Linked DNA regions of Homo sapiens: region 1 is linked to region 2. Evidence: fine-mapped expression QTL. A gene starts in region 2. The other region holds a variant in brackets. All regions are shown on one strand. Distances are between the middles of the regions.

The links. PIP is the estimated chance that this variant, and not a neighbour inherited with it, causes the effect.
Region 1: its variant is the best candidate, but not a certain one, in a credible set for the expression of ALG8 in whole blood (TOPMed, PIP 0.72).

What each region holds. Positions count from the first base shown.
Region 1 is chr11:78,859,072-78,864,455 of GRCh38, reverse strand. It overlaps TENM4 (teneurin transmembrane protein 4), which reads left to right. Exons shown (of 34, transcript NM_001098816.3): 10 at 1,324-1,494. Among named protein-coding and RNA genes, the nearest start is that of TENM4-AS1, 230 kb to the left of the region's middle. The variant G/A (reference allele first, on the strand shown) is at 2,251.
Region 2 is chr11:78,136,334-78,141,717 of GRCh38, reverse strand. It overlaps ALG8 (ALG8 alpha-1,3-glucosyltransferase), which reads left to right and starts at 2,092. Exons shown (of 13, transcript NM_024079.5): 1 at 2,092-2,224. The coding sequence starts at 2,130. It overlaps KCTD21-AS1 (KCTD21 antisense RNA 1), which reads right to left and starts at 1,925. Exons shown (of 3, transcript NR_102281.1): 1 at 1,646-1,925. RefSeq lists enhancers at 649-1,359, 1,520-1,629, 2,240-2,319, 2,400-2,509.

The DNA of each region.
Region 1 (5,384 bases), 720 kb before region 2:
TTTTTTTTTTTTTTTTTTTTTTGAGACGGAGTCTCGCTCTGTCGCCCAGGCTGGAGTGCAGTGGCGGGATCTCGGCTCACTGCAAGCTCCGCCTCCCAGGTTCACTTCATTCTCCTGCCTCAGCCTCCCAAGTAGCTGGGACTACAGGCGCCCGCCACTACGCCCGGCTAATTTTTTGTATGGAAAAATATCTTTAGAACAGAAATATATGCACATGGCACAAAATGAAAATGTGCAAAAGGTGTACAGTGAAAAGCAAGTTTCCCTCCTATCCCCCGATCCATAGTATCTCTATCCTTCACAGGACACAGCTACTGTTACCAGTCTTTCATATTCTACCAGAAATATTTTATACATTTCCAGGAATTTTTAAACCCAAAGGTAGTATATCAAATACACTTCTGCATGTTATACTTATCTTTCCACAAAAATACATAAAGAACCTCTTTATTCTTGTTAATGGTTGCATCCAATTTTGTTGTGTGGATATTACTTCATTTTCTTGCCCCTTATCAATGGACTGGTTTCTAATATTTTGCTATAACAAATTATACTGAAGTGAATAACCTTGTATGTACATCATTTAGTACATGTATAAGTATATCTGGAGGAGGAATTTCTAGAATTGGAAGCTTTATGTCCCAGGATAAAGGGTATGTGTATTTTAATGTTGCTAGCTTTTATCAAATTGCCCTCCATAGATTTTGTACATTATATTCTCACACCAGTAAAATATGGGAATGCTTGCTTTCCATTCTCTGCCAATATAGTGTATTTTCAACCTTTTTTATCTTTGCCAAACCATATGTGAAAAATAGTATTTCAGAGTCTAACTTACATTTCTTTTGCTATGAATAATGCCAAGAGTCTTTTCATATGATTATGGGCTATTTGTATTTCTTATTCAGTAAACTGTTCATATCCAATGCCTATTTTCCTACTGAGTTGTTGGACTTTGGTTATTATTTGTACAAGTTATTTTTGCGTTAAGGAAATTAACATTGTCATACCAATTGCAGTTTTTCCCCCAGATTGTTATTTATCTTTCGAAGCAAAGACCAAGACCTCCTGAGACTCCCCGATCCTGCCTACTCCCAGTTCCACCAGACTGTGAGCCCCTTGAGGGCAGGGTCTGAACCTTGATCCTCTCTGTCCCCAGTCTCCTTTGCAGGGCTGGCACTACAAGAGCTTCCTTTTGGGGCTACTTGTTGAACTGAACTGAATGCCTGTGTTCCCCCACCCTGCCCACCTTTCCCTTATGGCTTGGGAGTCCCGTTTCTGCCTCCAGCAGAAAAAGATGACTTTTCTCATTGCTCACCACAGCCATGCACCTGTTTGGCCTAAACTGGCACCTGCAGCCGATGGAGGGGCAGATGTATGAGATCACGGAGGACACAGCCAGCAGTTGGCCTGTGCCAACCGACGTCTCCCTATACCCCTCAGGGGGCACTGGCTTAGAGACCCCTGACAGGAAAGGCAAAGGAACCACAGAAGGTAGGGTTGCTGCGTTGTCCGTGTTGTGAGTCCTCTGTGTCTGCCTCTGAGCTGAAGAGCCCTCCATAACGTGCGTGCATCATGTGCCTGGCTCACAGCTCCATGCTCTGGCGCTCCCTCCATCCTTCCACACTCCACGCCAGCTGTCAAGCTGCCAGTCCACCTGTGTCTTCATCGCAGTTCCTTGTCACTGAGAGTTCGTGGGAGGCTCAGGAAGGGCTCATGGTGCTCAGCAGAATCCCATCCCATGCCTTGAGGGAAGCATTAGGGGCTTCACACTGCTGGGGTGGCCATCTTTGTGTGGGGTGAGAGGAGCTCTTCTGGGCAAACCTCATGGGACAGTTGGGCATCTGTGGGAGTGGGGTATGGGGAGGCAGGTAGATGGGGTGTTGTAATGGAAAGATTCTTGGACTCTTGTGGTTTAATAGAAACACCAGTTTAAGTGGTCTGTCATTTACTAAACGTGTGACCTTGAGCAAGTCACTTATTTGCCTGAGCTTCAGTTTCCGCATCCGCAATAATAACAATAATCATTAGTGTTCGTACAGCATGTTTGTTTTAAAACTTTTTGCCAAAAGCATTTCACATTTAATTCCCACAGAGATCCTGTAAGATAATTATTTTATAATTATTCTAGATATAGAAACTAGAATTGGTGCAAAGGATTGCACTAATTAAGTGATTTGGCCAGAGTCACACAGCCAGTAAATGGTAGAGTCTGGGATATGAGCCCAGGTCTGTGACTCCAGGGCTCTC[G/A]CTATCTCCATAAGCTTCCCCACCTGACTTACCCCAAGGTTACAAGGCCCTGAAGGAGATGTGGGTGTGAAATTCTATTGTACAATGAGACATGGATATTTCCTATCAATGATGGAAATGGTGGTGGCATTGGGTTTGCTATTCCTGAGTGGGATATCCATAGGCCCATGTTCTCAATGTCTTAGAAATATTTCTAACATGCCATGGACATTGTCAGCCAAGAGTGGCACAGACTCACAAAAATTGGCACCCAGAAAGATGTCTGAGCTAATAACCCAGCCTGGTTGTCATTCTGGGCAGTGTGGCGTTCCCTTCTCCTGCACCTGCTATGGCCTGCTTTCTCTCCCTGTGACCCTTCAGTCAGCACATTGGCAATAGCTGCCTCTAACTTTCACTGCTTACATCTTCTTTTCTCTCAGTTGACTTTTGGGTCATAGCATCTGAGCCTCTCTGCCCTTGCAATAATTTGCCTTCCAGCCACCAGTTTGTTTAACAGGGTGGCATATACTTGGTCAGAGTATCTACTCATGACCTCTGAAATGAGGATCCTGAGGGCCAAAGTCAACTCTTGGCTTCTGGTCATCTTTAAGGGAAGTGGGAACTGAGATCATTTCCACACAGAACCCCTGCCCACTATTTTGAGGGACAAAGCCAGTCCTCTCATTTGCAAAGATTTTAAGTCTTAAAATGCTAAATAGTGCACACTTTCTTTGCCTCTTAATAGGATATGGAGGGAGGAATCATGAATGGGACCTGGGAAGAGCTCTGGGTTAGAAGTCAGAAGCCCTGAGTTCAATTCCAGCTGCAGCCACTGACCTGTGGTATCACCTTAAGCAAATCCCTTGAACACACTTTCTGGGAGTCCTTTTCTCCTCTTCAAAAGGAGAATATTGAGCTAGATTCTCTCTAAGGTGCATTCTGATTTGTAAGTTCTACATATGAAAATAGCAATAGAATCATGTAAGTAACCAGATGGCTCTTCAGAATGTCATGTTGGCCCTGTCCATGGTCCTGCCTTTTGGCTCGTGGTGCCCATGTCAGCTTCTAGCGTCAGATGCCATGGGTTAATACCATAATGTGAAGACTGTCTTTAGATCAGCATGTACAAATGTAGATTTAAAATATGCTTAACCCTCAAGGAACTGGTAAAGGATCTCATTTGGCAAAACGTATTTTCTTCCCTCTATGATCTCTATCAGACGTTCTTTAAACAGGAGTCGGATCTATCTGAAATCTCTCACTCTAATGAAATTAGTCTGTGGGTTGTTTAGGTTTTGTTTTGTTTTTGTAAGGAACAGGAGGTGCAGATAAGAGATAAAATAAAATTGCACCAGATTATTGGTTTATTTTAATTGGAGTATTTTTGCTTAAAGGGATTATCTGTCATTACTGATGCAAATGGAAATCCTGTTTGCAAATGCCTTCAATGCAGCACTGTGCTGCAAAGTGGTCAGCATCAGAAGCAATCACTGTGACAAAAAAAATACGTCAGACTGGAAACCAGAGGACAAAGCTTCCTATAGTTTATGTGAGACCACAATGTTCTTCCTTTATTTTGCCCTGGTCAAACCAATGTCTACTCAGTGTATGTTTTTCATTGTGATGTTAAAAATGCATTCCCCTAGATATATCTCAATGCAGAAAGTCTTTAACTCTGATGTGAGCACATATTTCTCATCCCTTCTGAGGATATTCAAGAAGACAGCTGATTCCAGAATTAAGATTAGAGTCTCTGCTTCACAATGATGGAGAAAGCAATGTGGTGTGATAGAAAGGGGTAAATGGGCCTTGGAGCCAGACAGTATAGGATGTTAATCCTGACCCTGCTTTATATTGGCTCTGTTAACTTATGGCACTTACTGCATCTCCCTTGACCTTCCTCATCTGTAGAACAAGGATAACTATATCTATCCATTCAAAGCCTAATGTTGAAGTGGCACTCAACAAATATTTGTTCTCTTCTTCTTATCCACTCAAATCCCATGCCATTCCATATTAGTTATTAAAATCCCAGAAGTCCAGACTAATTAACATTCTCTCCCTGCCACAGATTCTGCAAAGGTTTGAGGTATTTTTGAATATGTTAAAGAATATATATTTCTTATTTATATGAATTAAATGTATGATAATCCAAGAATTGTAAATGTTCATCATGTCCTTGAGAATAACATGAAACTGCAGTTCATACTATATTTTCCAAATGGCTGTAACCATTCCAGGGTTGTGATGGGACAGAAACCAAATACAGCAGCTTTTCGAACTAAAGCCACAAGAACTTGTGTTACACATTAATGGGGAAGGGAAAAAAACATTGAATAAACAGGCATTTCTGATGGTTGAATTGGTGGGCTTGGGATAGCATTTTCTTCTTTCTGCAGTGAAATAAAAATTGCCCATTAGTTTGAACCATGCAAATTGCTGTGCGCAGGCTCAGCTGGGCTCTCCAAAACAGAACAGCTTATTTTGATAACCAAATAAATTTCAACCAGTTGCTAAGGAAACTAAAGAATTCTTCATGCAAGTTATTGCATTGAAAAGAACCAAAAAGGTGGAGGGAGAGAAAGAACATTAGTTGATTAGGAATTTAGAATCTATATAGGTAGATCTCAGTTCAAGAAAGTAAAGGCTATGATTGAGAAGTGCATGAAATTTCAGTTCTTCCAAATCTTGCTTTTTGACTGAGCTATCCATTTTAGCAATTCATTAAGAAATTTCTTTTATAGACATGATTGCATATTTGCACAGCATTGCTATGGGAAGCCTGAATCTATCTAGCTTTACAAAGCAAAGGACTATTATCAGTAAAATCTGCCTTGTGAGGCCTAATCTTGCTGTAGGGGAGCCCTAATTGTGACCTAAGCTTTTTGCAGTGTTTGTTAAGTCTCTGGGGGCACCCAGTGATTGTAGAGTGTCCTTCTCATGAATGTTTTGAGACCCTGACTGTTGCCCTTTAACTTTTGGACCTGTTTGTAGGTTCCTAATTCATACAAATGATCTTTTTGTACCCTAGGATGCCAGGAAGTTTTTTAATGGGCCTTGGATCTACCTGGTCAAGCTCTGATATTTAGCCTGCTGGGGCTGTGAATCCTATCGGACTCTTGATCTTTAAGAAGGTCAATGCACCCCACCACCAC
Region 2 (5,384 bases):
GTGGCCTTCTTTTACCTTCTTTTAACTTATCCTTTTTTGCTGTCTGGTCATCTTCATTGGTCTTCTGCTTCTCGGTGTCAAGATCATCATCATCATCATCTTCAGCTGCCCATTTGACTGTAGCTATTACAGGAAAGTAATCGATTGTAAGGATGGAAGTTGGTTGGAATGATGTGAGGAAGGGGCCAAGGAATGCAGGCAACTTCTAAAAGCTGAAAAAGACAAGAAAAACAATCTCCCTGCAGAGCCTCTGGAAGCAACCAATCCAAATGACACCTTGACTTTACTCCAGTGACTGATTTTAGATTTCTGGTTTACAGAACTGTAAGAGAATAAATTTGTGTTGTTTTAAGCTACTAAGTTTATGGTAATTTCTTACAGCAGAAATAGAAAATTAATGCAAAGTGCCTTTAAAACATCTAAGTAGCTGGGCATGGTGGCGCACAACTGTAATCCCAATACTTTGGGAGGCTGAGGCAGGAAGATCACTTGAGCCCAGGAGTTTGAAACCAGCATGGACAATATAGGGAGATCCCATCTCTACACACACACACACACACGTTGCCACATCCCTGTGGTCCCAGTTACTCAGGAGGCTGAGGTGGGGAGGACTGCTTGAGCCCAGGAGATCGAGGCTGCAGTGAGCTGTGTTTGCACTATTGCCCTCCAGCCTGGGCCACAGAATGAGACCCTGTCTCTCAAAAACAAAACAAAAACATCTACGTGAGGTCAGGTAGCCAACTGGAGACCAGGGTCTGAAAGTGAGAGAAGAGTGCTGAGCTAGAAATCTGTGAATCATATTCACATGGGTGGCAGCTGAAGCTGTGGGAGGGCATAAACTCATATTAGGGAGGTGACACTGTCACCTACTTGCTGTGCATCTTTCAGCAAGATAATTAACTGATCTGACACATTATTGAGCATTTATTCTGTCCTGGAATCATATCAAGCAATTTACATGCATTCTCATTTAATCCTCACAACCAGTTTATGAGGCTGAAACTTTTTTTTTTTTAGACCAAAAGCATCTTGGATAAACAGGCCTGAGGCTTGCCCAGGCTGAAGTGCAATGGCGCGATCTCAGCTCACTGCAACCTCCGCCTCCCACGTTCACGCGATTCTCTAGCTTCAGCCTCCCGAGTAGGTGGAATTACAAGCGCCCGCCACCATGCACGGCTAATTTTTTTTTAATTTTTAGTAGAGACAGGGTTTCACCATATTGGCCAGGCTGATCTCAAACTCCTGAACTCAGGTGATTCGCCCACCTCGGCCTCCCAGTGTTGGGATTACAGGCGTGAGCCACCGCGTCCGGCCAGAAACCATTTTTATCTCCTATTTTCAAAAATAAATAAATAAATAAAAATTTTAAAAAAAGAAACTGAGGTTTAGAGTTTAGTTTGTCCAAGATCATACAGTAAAATAATGAGACAAGCCTAATTAAATTGCATGTGCCTCAGTCATTACGCAATCTGCGAGTTTGTTGGGCCTACTGAATCAGAATCCGAATTATTTTAACATGAACCGTAGGCTATTTGTACACTAAGCGTTAGGACTAGCCTCTACCCTGCTTCCAGAATGGGTTCCGCTCAAGCAGGAGGTGAGCCAAGAGCCTCGCTCAGAGTTCTAAAAACACAATGTTTCTCACCTCTGTATCTTTGCACATGCCATTCTCTAGCTGGATTTAATACTCCGGTGCAAGCGTCCAGGTTGGGAGCCCCCGCAGTTCTCTGAGGTACTTTTATCTACTGTAACTCTAGGGCAACAATCCTGGCTTCTCCACTAGTGCGTGAACGTCTCTAGCGTTAAGTTTTTTTCTCACCTAAGTATCCCCAATACTACACAGTGATGACCCAGCGCAAACGACCACTCTTTCAACGCAAGCATGAACTAGCTGATAAAACTTAAAAGTGGCTACAAACGCCTGCGCAGGAGCCCTTCCGGCCCGGGGTGAGACGCGGGTCTAAAGAAAAGGTGGGCGGGAGGTTTAAATAGCTGACTGCAGTCCCCGGACTGGCTGCGCCGCTCGCCGCATGCGCGCAGCTAGCGGGCACGGCTTCAGAGGGCTTTCTCCGCATGCGCGGGATCCCGGATGTGGATCAAGTTGGTGGGAAGCGTGCGGTGCCGCAGCAATGGCGGCGCTCACAATTGCCACGGGTACTGGCAATTGGTTTTCGGCTTTGGCGCTCGGGGTGACTCTTCTCAAATGCCTTCTCATCCCCACATAGTAAGGGACTCGCACGGCCAGGGGCTGGGCGGGGAGGCCCCGCGGTCGGTCAGGGCGGGAGAGAAAGGTGTGGATATCCCTGGGTATGAAGAGAAAACTTTAGGTCGTGTTTGTCGCTATCCTGCCTTTGCTAAGCTTTCTGTTTCGCCAGTTGTTACTTGACTTAGCCCCAGCTGGCTAGGTTCAGACCTGGCGCTGTCTGATTTGGAACAAATCACTTTAACGTTTCTGAACCTCAGGGTCCTCATCCTTAATAGGCAGTTAAGAACCTCTGCCTCCAACAGCCATTCAGCCAGTATTATCAGATGCCTGAGGTGCCAGGTACCGTTCTAACTCCCGGGAGATGCGGTGGTGAGCAAGACATTGCTGGTCCTTGCCCTCGAAGTTGGTGGGTGGAGCTAGACAAACAGGAACTTTTCAGATTGTGATAAAGGAAATAGAGGGTTACTAAGTGGCTGTGCGCTATTCCTTTAGAAGGTGATGTTTGAGTTGAAATTCAAAAAATGAAAAAGAATAAGTGATGTGGAAAGCAGTTCAGGCATAGGAAAGAGTAAGTTCAAAGGCCCTGTGGCAGGAAAGAAGTCAGAGCATTCTAGGAACAGAAAGTGCCCCTTGTGGCTGCAGAGCATTGAGGGAGAGGAGTGGCACAGCATGGGGTGCACTGGGGACAGATAACACAGGGTTTCGAAGACCACAGTTAGACTGCTGTGTAAAAAATGGATGTAGGGCCAAGACTGAAAGCGTGGAAACCAAGAAGCAACCATGAAATGGTGGTGTGTATACAGTAGGTACTCAGTATTTATTAATATTGGCTTCCGCCTTCCCTTCATCCTTCCTCTTTTTTCTTTTTCTCCCTCATCCCTTTTCTCCTTTCCCTCCCACTTCCTAGTTTAGGGTTTGTTTTATTGGTATCCTTTGATTCAGGCTCTTGGTGATCTCTTGTTGAATATGGGAGAGTCATATGTATAGAATGTAAGTCCATACTGATGCGTATATGTAATCATGTAAGTGGAATGTATATGTAGATTCAGTAAAATGATTAACTGTAGGTCTGTGCATAAGATTATTTCTTGCTTTAGTTGCCTCAGGCTAGAAATGTATCCTCAGAGTTGTTTTTTTTGTTTGTTATTTTTTTTTTTTTTGAGACAGTCTCGTCCCACTCTGTCACCCAGGCTGGAGTACAGTGGCACGATCTCAGCTTACTGCAACCTCTGCCTCCCGGGTTCAAACGATTCTCCTGCCTCAGCCTCCGGAGTAGCTGGGATTACAGGCTTGCACCACCGCGCCAGGCTAATTTTTGTATTTTTAGTAGAGATGGGGTTTCACCATGATGGCGGAGGGCTGATCTCAAATCTCCTGACCTCAAGTGATCCACCTGCCTCGGCCTCCCATAATGTTGGGATTACAGGCATGAGCCACCGTGCCTGGCCAGAGTTGTTATTTTGAATACTGCTCTTGGTCCAGGTTAAGAATGTATATAGCGCTCACTTTGGCAGCACATGTACAGGAATACCTCATTTTTTGTACTTTGCTTTATTGCACTTCACAGATACTGCATTTTCATTTTTTTTACAAATTGAAGGCTGCGGTAACTCTCCATTGAGCAACTCTATCAATGCCATTTTTCTAACATCATGTGCTCATTTTGTGTCTGTGTTACATTTTGGTAAATCTTGAAATATTTCACACTTTTTCATTGCTATTATATTTGTTATGATCTGTAATCAGTGATCTTTGATACTACTATTCTGATTGCTTTGGGGCAACACTATGGTGAACTTAATAAATGCTGTGTGTTCTGACTGCTCTATCAACCAGCTGTTCCATCATCTCTCTCCCTCTCCTCAGGCCTTGCTGTTGACTGAGATACAATAATAAAGTTAGGCCAATTAATAGCCCTACAGTGGCATCTAAGTGTTCAAGTGAGAGGAAGAGTCACATATCTCTGACTTTAAATCAAAAGCTAGAAATGATTGAGCTTGATGAGGAAGGCATCCTGAAAGCCAAGACGGGCTGAAAGCTAGGCCCATTGTGCCAAACAGCCAAGTTGTGAGTGCAGAGGAAAAGTTCTTGAAGGAAACTAAAAGTGCTACTCCAGTGAATACACAAGTGATAAGAAAGTGAAACAACCTTGATGATATGGAGAATGTTTTAGTGGTCTGGATAGATCAAACCAGCCATAACATTCCCTTAAGCCAAAACCTTATCCAGAGCAAGGCCCTAAGTCTTCAATTCTTTGAAGCCTAAGAGAGGTGAGGAAGTTGCAGAAGAAAATTTGGAAGCTAGCAGAGGTTCTTTTAAGAAAAGAAGCCATCGGCCGGACGCGGTGGCTCATGCCTGTGATCCCAGCACTTCGGTAGGCCAAGACGGGCGGATCACCTGAGGACCAACATGGAGAAATCTCGTCTCTACTAAAAATACAAAATTAGCTGGGCGTGGTGGAGCATGCCTGTGATCCCAGGTACTTGGGAGGCTGAGGCAGGAGAATCACTTGAACCCGGGAGGTGGAGGTTGCAGTGAGCTGAGATCGCGCTATTGCACTCCAGCCTGGGCAACAAGAGTGAAACTCTGTCTCAAAAAAAAAAAAAGGAAGAAAAGAAGCCATCTCCATAATAAAGTACAAGGTGAAGCAGCAAGTGCTGATGTAGAAGCTGCAGTAAGTTTTCTAGAAGATCTAGCTAAGCTCACTGATGAAGGTGGCTACACTAAACAATAGGTTTTCAAGGTAGAAGAAACAGACTTACATTGGAAGATGCCATCTATGACATCTAGTTGAGCCATTTCTCACTTACTATTCTAAAAATCCAATGGCCCTTAAGACTTATGCTAAATCTACTCTGCCTGTGATCTATAAATGGAACAACAAAGCCCTGGATGACAGCACATCTATTTACAGCATGGTTTACTGAATAAGCCCACTGTTGAGACCTACTGCTCAGAAACATTTTTTTTTTCTAGAGGCAGGGTCTCGCTCTATCTCCCAGGGTGAAGTACAGCGGCACCATCATGGCTCACTGCAGCCTTAATCTCCTGCGCTTGAGCAGCCTTCCTCCCTCAGCCTCCCGAATAGCTGGGACAAAGACAGATGCCACCATGCCCAGCTAATTTTTTTTCCTTTCTCTCTCTATTATCTGTCTGTCTATCTATCTATATGTGTGTG